Homo sapiens: one gene and its partner. The protein of the gene in region 1 purifies or fractionates together with the protein of each later gene. This does not show direct contact. Each region holds a gene or a part of one and is shown in the gene's direction. Other genes may lie near its edges.

Region 1 (3,747 bases):
ACTTCCCCAGAGGGTGTGTTCGGTTGGCCCCAGGCTGAGGGAGGAAAGCCCACCTCCCATGTCATTTTGCAAATGGGGAGTCAGGGACCTAGAGATGGAAAGACAACACAGCAAGTGAGGGATGGGTTCTAGGTCCCCTGCACCCTGCACCCTGCACCCTGGCCAACGATGTCTATTTGGCACCAGATCTGCAGGCTCATCTGGGGGACCCCAGGACCCAGAGGCAGCCGGGTTGCATCTCGAAGCTGTGAGCTGCAGCCCAGGAAGGTCCAGGTCTGGGTGGCGCTGCCCAAGCAGGCTGCAGGCCCAAGGAGGAACAAAGATCCTCTCAAGGGGTGCGGAGCTGAGGTTCCGGTCCTGCCAAAGCCACTTGATGACCCCCAAGTGCCCCCCTTTCTGCACCTCAGAGAAGAGCCCTCAAGCCTCCCAGGTCCCCTCCAGGGGCACGAATAAGCCCCAGCAGGGTTCTGAAGGGGTCCCAGGAATCTCCCTGTGGGGATGCGGTGGAGGTGGAGGAGGCTGCGGTGGCCTGGGGACATCTCTGGTCACAGGTGCTGGTGGTATGAGAGATGGGGTAGGCACCAAGCCCCCTGCAGCTGTGGCTAGGCGGGCCTGCAGGAAGGGCCAGGCAGGCTCCTCAGGGACCACAAAGAACAGGGGTTTTCACACCTAGGTGGGCCTGCATCTAGCTAGGACAGTCCCCATCAGGCCATAATGGGCACAGTGGGAGGTAGAACCATGAGTGAGAGAGGGGAGGCTTCCAGAGGCCTGGCCTGGGTCCCTGCTAGATTGAGGGCTCTGGCTATGGTACATGGATATTTCTGCTGTGGAATCAAAGGAGCAGGGGATGCTGAATATCCCCTCTGGCCCTATGCCCTGCTACCTGTCCTTTCACGGAAGGGTGTGTGTGTAGGGGGTGCAGGACCAGGCCTCCCTGGGTGCATCTCTGCCACCTTGCCCTTTGGCTCAGGTGGACCTCCACCAGGTATTCAGAACTCCAGCCCAGAAACGCGCCAAGCCTGTGGGGCCAAGACCTAGGGGGTGGGGGTGGCCTCCCTCCCGCCTGTAGCCAAAGGGTCCTCCCTTGCCCAGCCAGGCCCCGGTGTCGCTTACTGCTCTTATCCACCCCTCCTTCCCAGGCCGGTCCTCAAGGCCCCAGCAAAGGAACCAAGTTCCCGTGAGCCTCCGAAAGGCGAAGGGCAGGCAGCAGCCGCTGGCTTCTGCGCCCACTAGGAGCTTCGGATGCCCGAGTTAGGGCTGCGCCAAGGCGGCCGGAGCAGAGAGGGAGACGGGGACGGGGACAGGCAGGGACAAAGTGCAAGAGGCAAAACTGGCTGAAAAGCAGAAGTGTAGGAGCCGCCAAGGGGCGGGACGAACAGGTCCGTGGGCCGGGCGGAGCCAAGGGTGGGGGCCGGGGTCCCTCCAGGTGGCACTCGCGGCGCTAGTCCCCAGCCTCCTCCCTTCCCCCGGCCCTGATTGGCAGGCGGCCTGCGACCAGCCGCGAACGCCACAGCGCCCCGGGCGCCCAGGAGAACGCGAACGGCCCCCCGCGGGAGCGGGCGAGTAGGAGGGGGCGCCGGGCTATATATATAGCGGCTCGGCCTCGGGCGGGCCTGGCGCTCAGGGAGGCGCGCACTGCTCCTCAGAGTCCCAGCTCCAGCCGCGCGCTTTCCGCCCGGCTCGCCGCTCCATGCAGCCGGGGTAGAGCCCGGCGCCCGGGGGCCCCGTCGCTTGCCTCCCGCACCTCCTCGGTTGCGCACTCCTGCCCGAGGTCGGCCGTGCGCTCCCGCGGGACGCCACAGGCGCAGCTCTGCCCCCCAGCTTCCCGGGCGCACTGACCGCCTGACCGACGCACGGCCCTCGGGCCGGGATGTCGGGGCCCGGGACGGCCGCGGTAGCGCTGCTCCCGGCGGTCCTGCTGGCCTTGCTGGCGCCCTGGGCGGGCCGAGGGGGCGCCGCCGCACCCACTGCACCCAACGGCACGCTGGAGGCCGAGCTGGAGCGCCGCTGGGAGAGCCTGGTGGCGCTCTCGTTGGCGCGCCTGCCGGTGGCAGCGCAGCCCAAGGAGGCGGCCGTCCAGAGCGGCGCCGGCGACTACCTGCTGGGCATCAAGCGGCTGCGGCGGCTCTACTGCAACGTGGGCATCGGCTTCCACCTCCAGGCGCTCCCCGACGGCCGCATCGGCGGCGCGCACGCGGACACCCGCGACAGTGAGTGGCGCGGCCAGGCGCGAAGGGGCGGGGGCGGGGGGCAACGGCCGCCGGGCCAACCCGCTCAGTCACACTCTGAGACCCTCGGCGGGCACCTGCTCGGGGGCCCCGGGAACCGGGGCGGACTCGGGCTCCGGTCCCTTCTGACGCGGGGCTGGGGACGCAGACACTCTTGGCTCCGGCAGCCCAGCGCAACCCCTGAGGTCGGGCGCCGCCTCCCGCCTTCAGAAACTCGGGCTCCGAGCGCCGAATTCCAGCGCCTTCGCCCGTGGGCACAGGGCGCGCGGTGCAGCCACAGGGGGCCCGAGACACGCGCCCCGGCCTGGCCCAGGCTGGGGAACCGCTGGGGTCGGGCTCGCGTCTGAAGGTCCGGGACTGGGTGCGGCCGCCGGGGGTCCCCTACACAGGCAAGCTAATCTGAGCTAGCGCAGGCTTGGGCTCCGGAGGCCCTAGAGGGCAGCTTGGGCTCTGGAGGCCCTTGGGGGCGGCTGCGCCGGGAACCCTGGCCCTTTATCCCCAACCCCACCCCAGAAATAGGGTCCCCGGAGGCGAACAAGCCGAGGGGCGGAGTGGGCCAGGGATCACCTGCCCCGCAATGACCTGCGCCCCGCCCCCAGGCCTGCTGGAGCTCTCGCCCGTGGAGCGGGGCGTGGTGAGCATCTTCGGCGTGGCCAGCCGGTTCTTCGTGGCCATGAGCAGCAAGGGCAAGCTCTATGGCTCGGTGAGTACCGCAGGGGTCTGGCTAGGCACCTAGTTGGGAACAGCGGACATGGCTAGCAGGCTCGTGGCTTCTCCAGCCCCACCTGTGCCTGGGTCTTGGAGGGGTGGCAGGGTCACCAGGTCACGGGACCGGCAGGCCTCCCCAGACAAAGGAAGCAGCCCCAAGGCAGGAACAATGAGGTTCCTGCCATCCCTGAGTGGGCCCCTCCCAGACCGAGGAAAGGGCGCTATTGAGAGCCCTTCCCTTCTCTAGTCCAGAGGGGTAGGTCTCAGTGTTGGAACTGCGGGCTTGAGGCTGGACACGGAGGGAATGAATTCTCTGGCTGCTAGGTGCAGGGCAGGTGGTGAGAGCACCAGCTGTTGTGGGCTGGCCATGTCCCCTTCTCACCCTGTGTGGGTCTTGACACCTTAACTGCTCAGCAGAGACATCTCAGCCCAGGGTGGGGGGTGGGACAGAAGGGGGTTCTGACCCCTGGCTTCAGGCTGGGTACCTTGCCCAAGAGGTGCCCCAGCCCTGACACTGCCCTGCTTTGCTGCAGCCCTTCTTCACCGATGAGTGCACGTTCAAGGAGATTCTCCTTCCCAACAACTACAACGCCTACGAGTCCTACAAGTACCCCGGCATGTTCATCGCCCTGAGCAAGAATGGGAAGACCAAGAAGGGGAACCGAGTGTCGCCCACCATGAAGGTCACCCACTTCCTCCCCAGGCTGTGACCCTCCAGAGGACCCTTGCCTCAGCCTCGGGAAGCCCCTGGGAGGGCAGTGCCGAGGGTCACCTTGGTGCACTTTCTTCGGATGAAGAGTTTAATGCAAGA
Region 2 (3,647 bases), on another chromosome or scaffold:
CTGATTGTGGAAATCTATGGAAAAATGAAATGGTTTCTTAAAAATTATAAATTGTAAGAAAAGGAAAAAGAGGAGAAACCTATGGATTACAAGAGATTTAAGAGATTAAAATGCATACTAGCCAATTGCCGTGATGGACTTTATTTAGATCCTGATTAACTACTTGTAAAAAGTAAAAGTTTATGAAACAATCGAGGAAATATAATCATCAGCTGGATACTTGATGATATCGAATTATTTGAAACATTTAAATGTGACAGTGGTAGTAATGTGGCTGTGTTTATAAAGAGTCTTTATCCTTCATTTTATTTTTTGGAGATGAAGTCTCACTCTGTTGCCCCAGCTGGAGTGCAGTGGTGTGATCTCTGCTCACTGCAACCTCCGCCTCCCGGGTTCAAGTGATTCTCCTGGCTCAGCCTACCGAGTAGTTGGGATTACAGCTGCCCGCCACCATGCCTGGCTAATTTTTGTATTTTTGGTAGAGACAGGGTTTTGCCATGTTGGCCAGGCTGGTGTTGAACTCCTGACCTCAGGTGATCCACCTGCCTTGGCCTCCCAACGTGCTGGGATTACAGGCATGAGCCACCTCGCCCAGCTGAGTCTTTATCTTTCAAAGAAATATTTTGGAGTCTGGGATTTCCTTCAAAATAATCTTTGGGTGGGTGGGGATAGTAAGTTGGGGGTATAGTTGCAATAGGATTGGTCTTGAGTTAGTAACTGCATTTGGGGCTGGGTACAGTGGCTCATGCCTGTAATCTCAGCACTTTGGGAGGCCGAGGTGGGCAGATCGCTTGAGGTCAGGAGTTCGAGACCAGCCTGGCCAACATGGTAAAACCTTGTCTCTACTAAAAGTACAAAAATTAGCTGGGCATGGTCATTTGTAGTCTCAGCTACTAGGGAGGCTGAGGCAGGAGAATTGCTTGAACCTGGGAGGCGGAGGTTGCAGTGAGCTGAGATCATGCCATTGCACTCCAGCCTGGGCAACAGAGCAAGACTCCATCAAAAAAAAAAAAATTGCGGCTGGGTGGTTCATGATGCTTATTCACTTTTGTGATACTGTTGTATTTAGCGTATGTCCTAAAATTTCTGTACTGTAATTAGAAAGAGCTAGTCACAGCCTTCAAGAATTTTAAGAGCTAGATATAAAAAATAAATGAATATGGCATGTTAACAGTTATTATAGAAGTCGGTATAAATTGCTGTGGGGGCACATAGAGTGTAGAGTGAGCCCATAAAAAGGTTGAAAGGTAGAGTGTGAGCTTGGGCCAGAAAGACAATTTCAGTGGCTTTCCAAGCAAAAGAAGAGCAAATGCAGTGGTATGGAGCTGTGAAATTATACAGCTGAGGGAGCATCAGATTTGGAAACTAATTCTGGTTTTATGGTAGAGGATGGCACAGATGAGGCATAGACAAATCTTCAAATAAGAATTCTATTGAAAATAGGGAGTTAGAGGGCGTGCAGCTTGGGGATTGTGGTAAAGGAAGGTTTTCATTCATTCTTTTTTTTTTTTATTTTTGAGAATAAGTCTCCCTCTTGTCGCTCAGGCTGGAGTGCAGTGGCGCAATCTTGGCCCACTGCAACCTCTGCCTCTCGGGTTCAAGAGATTCTCTTGCCTCAGCCTCCCGAGTAGCTGGTACTACAGGCTCCTGTCACCATGCCTGGCTAAGTTTTGTGTTTTTAGTAGAGATGGGGTTTCACCATGTTTGCCAGGCTGGTCTTGTACTCCTGACCTCGGGCGATCCACCCACCTCGGCCTCCCTAATTGTTGAGATTATAGGCGTGAGCCACTGCCCCCGGCCTCATTCTTTTTTTTTTTTAAACCTTGAATTAAAATTTAAATTACTTGACAAGTTTAGATCACTGTTCAGAGAGAACTGACTAGTCATGAAAGTTTCATCTTCAGAAATTATCCTATTAGTGAGTTTATAAGTTCATCTTTCTGCTTCTCCCTTCCTCTCTAGAATTAGCTAATAGCCAGCAAAATTTTGATTTTATCAGCCCTGTTTAACTTATGTTTGTATCTTTGGTAAACTAGATCCAAGAATAATAGATTTGAACGTTATAACATGTATTGTTTCATCACTATCATATGGAAACTTTTACTGTCCTGTTACAGTTTTGCAAATGTTTGTCCTGCCACCTAAAGGATACAGCATATTATTGAAATTTCCACCTGCACGTGCTTATTTATGCAAAGGAAGTCAAATTGATTTCTGTGGGGAATTTGCCTAAAAATGGATGGTTGAAATGTGCTGCCTGAAATTATAAATGGAACAATAGGATATAATACTCATTGCCTTATTTTCCTTAATCATAATACAATTAAAAGCTTTATATAGCTTTTATATCATTAGAAAAGATAATGTCTCTTCCAGGCTTAAAAATGTAGCCCCAAAACACAAGAATAAATTGGATTGTTTGTAGTCACACAAACAGTTTTGTCTGTTGGCTTTGTTTTATTGTCAGAAATCCTAAATATTGTTGACATTGACTTATTTTCAAATGATACAGTCTCCAAGATGATATGCAGAAGATGAACTGATGTAGCTGAGTGACCAAAGGCACTGGCAAAGGATCGATGAGTTGTATTTTTATACAGATGCTCCTTGACTTATTATGGGGTTATGTCTTGGTAAACCCAGTTTAAGTTGAAAATATTGTAAGTCGAAATGCATTTAAGACACCTAACCTACACAACATCATAGCTTAGCCTAACCTTCTTTAAACATGCTCAGAACACTTAGCCTCCAGTTGGGCAAAATCATCTAACACAAAGCCTATTTTATAAGAAAGTATTGAATATCTCATGAATTCAATACCGAATACTCTATTGAAAGTGAAAAAACAGAATAGTTGTACGGGTACTCAAAGTACATACAGTTTCTGCTGAATGCATGTAGCTTTTGTACTGTTGTAAAGTCAAAAAATCCTAAGTCTAACCATCATAAGTTGGGGACTGTCTGTAATTGAATGGGACCTGGCCAGGTATCCTTGAGAGAGCGCAGGTGAATGTCTCAACCAGTTAGGATAAATGACTGTCCCACAAAAGTCATACATGTTCATTGTAGAAAACCAAATATAGGCTGGGCGTAGTGGCTCACGCCTGTAATCCCAACACTTTGGAAGGCCGAGGTGGGCGGATCACTTGAGGTCAGGAGTTCGAAACCAGCCTGGGCAACATGATGAAACCCTGTCTCCACTAAAAATACAAAAATTAGCCAGGCATGGTGGTGGGCACCTGTAGTCTCAGCTACTCGGGAGGCTGAGGCAGGACAATGGCGTGAACCTGGGAGGCGGAATTTGCATTGAGCCGAGATCGCGCCACTGCACTCCAGCCTGGGCGATGGAGCGAGGCTCTGTCTCAACAGCAACAAAAAAAATTATAAGTAATTTGAAATTATTTGAGCACATACAAATGTCCCAATTAGAAGTACTCAGTAAATGCTAGTGAGTTACTTAGAAAGAAACTGCTTGTGAGAAATCCATGTGCTGATAGCCAAGATTTATTGAGCATGTATTTCCCAGGCATTGTTCTAAGTGCTAGTAACTCAATCCTCACCGCAACCCTAAGAAGTAGGTACTATTGCCATCATTTCAGATGCAAGTTAAATAATTTACCTGCCCAAGACACTATAGCTAATAAGTG

What was found. Proteins that work in one complex are often made in the same cells at the same time.
Region 2: the proteins of FGF4 (region 1) and UACA purify together in Homo sapiens (affinity purification with mass spectrometry; one large-scale study listed by BioGRID and IntAct). This does not show direct contact.

Annotation. Positions count from the first base shown.
Region 1 is NC_000011.10:69,773,208-69,776,954, reverse strand, and holds the start of FGF4 (fibroblast growth factor 4 precursor), read left to right. Parts: upstream 1-1,613; 5' UTR 1,614-1,870; coding exon 1,871-2,210; intron 2,211-2,827; coding exon 2,828-2,931; intron 2,932-3,469; coding exon 3,470-3,646; 3' UTR 3,647-3,747. UniProt on the Homo sapiens protein: Plays an important role in the regulation of embryonic development, cell proliferation, and cell differentiation. Required for normal limb and cardiac valve development during embryogenesis.
Region 2 is NC_000015.10:70,753,541-70,757,187, reverse strand, and holds part of UACA (uveal autoantigen with coiled-coil domains and ankyrin repeats), read left to right. Parts: intron 1-3,647. UniProt on the Homo sapiens protein: Regulates APAF1 expression and plays an important role in the regulation of stress-induced apoptosis. Promotes apoptosis by regulating three pathways, apoptosome up-regulation, LGALS3/galectin-3 down-regulation and NF-kappa-B inactivation.